Homo sapiens: one gene and its partner. The protein of the gene in region 1 purifies or fractionates together with the protein of each later gene. This does not show direct contact. Each region holds a gene or a part of one and is shown in the gene's direction. Other genes may lie near its edges.

What was found.
Region 2: the proteins of NXPE3 (region 1) and ARHGAP17 purify together in Homo sapiens (co-immunoprecipitation; one large-scale study listed by IntAct). This does not show direct contact.

Annotation. Positions count from the first base shown.
Region 1 is NC_000003.12:101,785,711-101,789,528, forward strand, and holds part of NXPE3 (NXPE family member 3 isoform 1 precursor), read left to right. Parts: intron 1-3,818.
Region 2 is NC_000016.10:24,931,665-24,935,482, reverse strand, and holds part of ARHGAP17 (rho GTPase-activating protein 17), read left to right. Parts: coding exon 1-13; intron 14-3,818. UniProt on the Homo sapiens protein: Rho GTPase-activating protein involved in the maintenance of tight junction by regulating the activity of CDC42, thereby playing a central role in apical polarity of epithelial cells.

The DNA of each region.
Region 1 (3,818 bases):
TCATAACTAAGGGAGCCGAGTCTGGGGATCTGGGGCTAACTAGCCTGGGAAAACGTTGGTTATCGGAAGATTATCGTAGTCACAGTTCTTGTTTTCATTTATTCGGTAAGTATTTGCGTGCTCACAATGGTTATATACGCTGCTAGTCACCGAGGGTACAGTGAAGACATTTCTTCACTTACAGGCCTTTCTTTCTAGTGCTCACATAATAAGTGTGCATGGAAGAAAAGTAGTAGTAATCATAATCACATAATAATAGTAACGATAATTGGACATTGTGAAAAGTGCAAAAAGGAAAGGGAGCTATTCTAGGATACCTTTAGAGTGATGAAGGAAAAACCTCTTCAAGGAGGGGACCTTTCAGTCAACCCATGGAAAAAAGCTGAAGGAGTATTTCAAGGGAGGGAGTAGATGAGTCTGTGTTGGAGATTACTAGATGGTACTCAGGGACCATGTCTTACTGAATCCCTCACAAGGGCCTGTCACTAAGAAGGTACTTAGTAGTGTTCCTTCTTCCCTGTCCCCAGCCCCAACATGAACTCATATAACCAAAATTTATGGTGGAGTTTCTGTATAAAGGATGCTGTCCTTTTGTTTTGTTGGCTTGTGGTACTTCTCAGATTACATATCCAACTTAATTATGGCATTTCTTTTCTTATTGGGTTTTATTAGCCTAAGGTGCTCTAAAAGCTAAGCCATAGGCTTTTAAAAAAATTTCTCCTGCTGGAATCAACTTTGTGGTTTTTAGCAGAACACCTAATCTCTCTGTGAAATGGGCACACTAAGGTCCTACAGATCTTTTCCTGTGCGCTGTGAGTAAAATTTGTTTGGTACTATGGAGAATGTGAAGTAATTCTGTTAAAGATTCTGTTAAAGATTTCCTATTAGAAATAGGCTTAAGGCATAAAAGCTAAGTATTTCTTCTTCTTTTTCTTTGCTTAAACTGTTCTTGTGTGTTTTACTATATAAGATACTACCAATCCTACACCGATAGTTCCTTTTACCTGGAAGCTGTTGATGATGTGTCTAGATATTTTAGAAACTCTTTTTTTAAAGTATTTTTTGTGGTAAATAACTAACATAGAATTTGTCATTTTAACCATTTTTAGGTGTACAATTGAGTAGCATTAAGTACATTCACATTGTTGTGCAATCACCCCACCATCTATGTCTAGAACTTTTTCATCTTCCCAAACTGCAGCTCTTTACCCATTAAACAGTGATTACCTAGGTCAGGCGCAGTGGCTCACACCTGTAATCCCAGCACTTTGGGAGGCTGAGGTGGGAGGATCCCTTGAGGTCAGGAGTTCAAGACCAGCCTGGTCAACCTGGTGAAACCCCGTCTCTACTGAGAATCACTTGTACCTGGGAGGCAGAGGTTGCTGTGAGCTGAGATCATGCCACTGCATTCCAGCTTGGGCTACAGAGGGAGACTGTCTCAAAAAAAAAAACACAACAAATCCAAAAAACAATGATTACCCATTCCTGCCTATCCCCTGCCCCTGGCATTCACTCTTCTACTTTGTGTCTCTATGAACTTGACAACTCTAAGTACCTTATACCAGTGGAATCAATCATATGATATTTGTCCTTTTTTTGTTTGTTTGTTTGTTTGAGACAGAGTCTCGCTCTGTTGCCCAGGCTGGAGTGCAATGGCACGATCTTGTCTCACTGCAACCTCTGCCTCCTGGGTTCAAGCGATTCTCATGCCTCAGCCTTCTGAGTAGCTGGGATTACAGGCGTGTGCCACCACGCTTAGCTAATTTTTGTATTTTTAGTAGAGATGGCGTTATGCCATTTGACCAGGCTGGTCTTGAACTCCTGACCTCAAGCGATCCTCCCACCTTGGCCTTCCAAAGTGCTGGGATCACAGGTGTGAGCCATGAAGCCTGGCCTGGTATTTGTCTTTTTGTGATTGGCTTATTTCTGTTAGCATAACGTCCCCAAGGTTCACTCATGTAGCATGTATCAGAATTTCTTTTCTTTTTAAGGCTGAGTAATACTTCTCTGTCTACACATAGACGGAGGAATATTATTCAACCTTAAAAAGGAAGGAAATTCCGATAGATGCTACAGCATGTACATACATACCACATTTTGTTTATCCATTCATCTGACATTTGGGTTGTTTCTACCTTTTGGCTATAATGGATAACAAGTATTTCTTCAAGACTCTGCTTTTAATTCTTTGGAATAGGTACCCGCAAATGGAATTGCTGGATTATATGGTAATTTTAATTTTTTGAGGAACCACCATATTATTTTCCATAATAGCTGCATCATTTTTTATCCTTATCAACAGTACACAAGGGTTCCAATTTCTTTGCATCCTCGCCAGCACTTGTCATTTTGTTTTGTTTTTTTGATAGTAGCCTTCTTTGTGGATGTGAGGTAATGTATAACAGTAGTTTTAATTTGCATTGCCATAATTATTAATGATGTTGAGCATCTTTCTATCATGTGCTTTTGGATAAATATCCAATTCCGGTACTCACTGTTTAACGGAGTTGTTTGTTTGTTTTTTGTTGTTGTTGAGTTGTAGGAGTTCTTTATGTGTTCTGGATATTCACTCCTTATCAGACATATGATTTGCAAATATTTTCTCCCATTCCATAGGTTGCTTTTTCACTCTGATTTTGTCCTCTGATACATAAAAATTTTTACTTTGGATGTAGTCCAGTTTATCTGTTTTGACTTTTGTTGCCTGTGTATTTGGTGTCATATCCAAGAAATCATCACCAAATTCAATGTTGTAAGACCTTTCCTCTGTGTTTTCTTCTAAGAGTTTTATAGTTTTAGCTCTTACGTTTAGGTCTTTGATCTACTTTGTTATCCTTTAAAAAAATTGTGATGAAAACACATAAAATTTGGTATCTTAGTTATTTTTAGGTGTACAGGTCAGTAGCATTAAGTCTTTTTTTTTGAGACGGAGTCTTGCTCTGTTGCCCAGGTTGGAGTGCAGTAGCATGATCTCGTCTCACTGCAACCTCCTCCTCCCAGATTCAAGTGATTCTCTTGCTTCAGCCTCCCGAGTAGCTGGGATTACAGGCGTCTGCCACCATGCCCAGCTAATTTTTGTATTTTTAGTAGAGATGGGGTTTTGCCATGTTGGCCAGGCGGGTCTTGAACTCTTGACCTCAGGCGATCCACCCACCTCGGCCTCCCAAAGTGCTGGGATTACGAGCATGAGCCACCATGCCTGGCCTCAGTAGCATTAAGTCTTATTTACATTGTCTTGGAATAGATTTCCAAAACCCCTTTTATCTTTTTAATATCTGTAGAATTGTGTTTATCTTATTACTCCTGATCACTCTGACCAGAGATTTGTGTTTTATTGATCTTTTTGAAGAACCAGCTTTTGATTTCATTTTCTGTATTTTTTCTGTTTTTTTGTTTGGTCAATTTCCATTCTGATCTTTATTATTTCCCTTCTTCTGTTTACTTTGGATTTAATTGTCTCGTCCTAGTTTCTTAAAGTGATAGCTAAAGTCATTGTTTTGAGATCTTTCTTTTCTAATTAAATGTTTAATGCTATAAATTTTCTTCTACAAGGCTGGGTGTGGTGGCTTAGGCCTGTAATCCCAGCACTTTGGGAGGCTGAGACAGGAGGATCACCTGAGGCCAGAAGTTTGAGACCAGCCTGGGCAACATAGTGAGACCCCATCTCTACAAAAAATTTTGAAAAATTAGGTGAGTGTAGTGGTGTGTGCCTGTTGTCCTAGCTACTTGGGAAGCTGAGACGGGAGAATCCCTTGAGCCCAGGAGTTTGACTTTATGGTGAGCTATGATCATGTCACTGCACTTCAGCTTGGGCAGCA
Region 2 (3,818 bases), on another chromosome or scaffold:
ACACTGCGCCGAGGTAAGCAGCCACCGTCCTCCTTGCCCTCAGGGAAGCCTGTGCAGACCTCCTTAAGTTAGTGCAAGGATTCAGATGGTGAGGTTTGTGGCCAGATCTTTTCTATGTCTGTTGTAAAATCCCAAGCAGAAAATTCAGTCATTCAAGAGAAAAGTCATTAAAGAAAAAGGAAAAAATAGAGAACAGAAAAGCAGACATTTAGTTTTTCCTTAGGCGTGACAAAGCTTAACAAACAGTCAGTTCTGCAGAAATGCTCCCAGTTTTCCTGGTGTCCCAAGCCCTCGCTCTGTTTGGAGACTACCACAGCCTCTGTACTTCTCAGCTTTGTGGGTCTGGGAGGCACTTTTGCTTCGGAATTGGGGTGAAGGCTTTCTAGGTCCTGATTAACAGAATCTGAACTGCTCCCACCTGTCTTCCCTGCAGTCCTCCACCCAGCAGCCAGGGGAATTGCTTTAAAACTCCAAGCAGATCATGTCGTCTCTTGGTTAAACTCTTCAGTGGCTTCCATGCGAACTTCTCACCCTGGGTTCTCTGTGCTTTGGTGGGGCCTACCTCTGAGCCCAGAGCTTACACTCCCTCCTCTCAACACACTCCACTCTTGGTTCCTTGAATGAACTAAGTTCATCCCCTCCTTAGGGCTTCCAGAACATTCTGTCCCATATCTTCACATGGTTTCTTCTTACCATTCAGGTCTCACCTCAAAAATCACTTCTTCCAGCTGGGCGTGGTGGCTCACACCTATAATCCCAGCACTTTGGGAGGCTGAGGCAGGAAGATCGCTTGAGGCCAGGAGTTGGAGACCAATCTGGTCAACATAGTGAGAGCCCACCTCTACAAAAAAAATTTTAAAAATTATCTGGGTGTGGTGACACACACCTATAGTCCCAGCTACTCAGGAGGCTGAGGCAGGAGGATCACTTGAGCCCAGGAGGTCGAGCCTGCAGTGAGCTATGATTGCACCACCGCACTCCAGCCTGGACAACAGAGTGAGACCCCATCTCTAAAATAAAAAAGAGAGGCCAGGCGCAGTGGCTCACACCAGTAATCCCAGCACTTTGGGAGGCCGGGGTGGGTGGATCACTTGAGCCAGGAGTTCAAGCCTGGCCAACATGGTGAAACCCCATCTCTACTAAAAATACAAAAATTAGCCGGGCATGGTGCTTGCACGCCTGTGGTCCCAGCTACTCAAGAGGCTGAGGCAGGAGAATTGCTTGAACCTGGGAGGCAGAGGTTGCAGTGAGCCAAGATTGTGCCACTGCACCCCAGCCTGGCCAACAGAGCAAGACTCTGTCCCGAAAAAAGAAAAAAAAATGGATTAAATTCACTGTGTCTGTCTATAGAAGCATGGTCTTTACAAAGCACTACACAAATGTTAGTGGAATTTCTACAAATCATAGGCAGGGAGGCAAATCCGAGTCCACTGCTTGGTTGCAGACCCCCACTTTATTCTTCTTCAGGCTGCCTCTCTGGGCCCTGTCATCTTATCAGGATCTCAGCTGATCCTTGAGGGAAGTTAGTCTTCTGGACCTAGATTCCAGGTGTGACTCTGGTTTTGGATTAAGAAGACTCTTTTCCTTATAGCCGCATTCAGAGTCTTTCATGCTTCCCGAAATCACAGCTCCCAGGCTTCTTCGCAGGATGGGTTTGATTCTTTTTTCCTTCCCCACCCCCTGCGCCTCTGAGGTGGTCTCAGACAAGGCCTCCATTTCTCCCAGCCCCCTCCCCCTGACACTTTGCTCCCACGCTCCCTCTCCCCATCCTCTTCACACCCTTAAATTTCAGGAACGAGCTTTTATTCAGTATGACTTTACAATTAGTATTGCTTAGAACAGAAAACTAGACTTTTTTTTTAAATGCCGATGGCAGTCTGGAGTACAGCTAATGTAAGCTGGTTGGTGGTTTCTGAGTTCCAGGGTTGAAAGTTCCAGACCAGTGTAGCAGAGTAGACTTTACCCTTTTTTCTTTTTTTTTTTCCTTTCTTATGTTTTTTAGAGGCAGGGTCTCGTTTTCTCACCCATGCTGGAATGCAGTGGCGTGATAATAGCTCACTGCATCCTCCAGCCACTGGACTCAAGTGATCCTCCCACTTTGGCCTCTCAAAGTGCTGGTACTACAGGCACATGCCACCATGCCTGGCTGCTTTATTTTTTTGTAGAGTCGGGGTCTCACTGTGTTGCCCAGGCTGGTCTTGAGTGATCTTCCTGCCTCAGCCAGTCAGAGTGCTGGGAATACAGGCATGAGCCACCGAGACTTTACCCTTTTCAATCCTGAATTCTGGGCCCTGTAAACAGGCAGCCGGGGAATAGGGGAAGGAGGAAGAGGAAAAAGCATTCAGGGAGTCCACATGTCATGGGCAGGAGTCTCAGTTCTGCCCCTTACTAGCTGTGTGACCTATTACCAAACACTGGCCCTCTTCAAGCCTCAGTTTTCTTCTCTGTGAAAATGGGGATAACAGAGCTTGCCCTGCAATGAGCTTATGAAACTTGAATGAGATAATTTATATAAATTATAATGTGCATAATTTATATAAAAGGCCTTACTTGGTACTGGTGATAAGAGTGATACATGTTCATTTCTTTCCTTCATTTCCTTCTCCTTCTTTCTTAGAGAACCAGTAGGATCTTAGCAGAGTTTGAAAAAGGCTAAAATCTCTCCTTTCCCCCTACCCCTCCCAGCCCAAAACCAGAGCCCCAGATCTGTTGTTTTCCCTCCTGCCCTCATCAGTCCCAGGTTCCTATCCCTGATCTCAGCTGGTGTAGGGAGGAGAGTGATGTGATTCAGCTCTCTTTAGAGAAATAATTCTAAGGCAACTCTTCCAGATTTATTCATGCTTTTGTCCAGGACATATCTATTAACTCAAATGGTTGCGGAATTGGTAGAAATTCTGTTATTAAGACCAATCAAACCAATCAAACTCTCAAGGAGAAGGTGGCTTGGGATCAGGGGTCATGTTATATCAGGGTGAACTAGTCATGCTTGGTGGTCCCTCCTGGCTGTTCTGCCTCTTTCTGCGTCTTCCCATGGGGCCCTAATGAGGAGGCTGCTAAGTGGGCTGAGGGCAGCACTTCCGTGTCATTGGGGTGGCCTCTGTTAACAGTTTTCTTCTTATTGAACTTTCAAAACGATAGGCCTTTAAAGCCCTTTCAAATGTGCATAATGTACTTAATTTTTAAAATAAACTTGTTTGTTTGGAGTAATTTTGAATTTATAGAAAAGTTGCAAAGATAATGCTGAGAGTTCCCATATGCCCCTTACTCAGTTTCCCCTGTTGTTAATGTGTTACATGACCATGGCACATTTACCCCAGCTCAGAAGTCAACATTGGGCTAGTCCCCCCATCCCCCCCAACTTTTTTTTTTTTTTTGAAATGGTCTCACTCTGTTGCCCAGGCTGGAATTCAGTGGTGTGATCACTGCAGCCTTGGACTTCCCAGGCTCATGGGATCCTCCCACCTCAGCCTCATGAGTAGCTGGGATTACAGGCGCATGCCACCACGCCCGGCTAATTTTTGTAGTTTTTTGTAGAGATGGGGTTTTGCCACGTTGCTCAGGCTGGCCTTGAACTCCTGCACTCAAGTGATCCGCCTGCTTTGGCCTCCCAAAGTGCTGAGATCACAGGCGTGAGCCACTGCACCTTGCGGTTCATTACCATTAACTAGACTCCACATTTTGTTCAGATTTCCCTAGTTTTTCCACTCATGTCCATTTTCTGTCCCAGGATCTCATCCAGGAGCCCACATTATATGTAGTCATCGTATCTTCTTCGTCTCCTGCTGTCTGTGACATGTTCTCCGTCTTTCTGTGCTTTT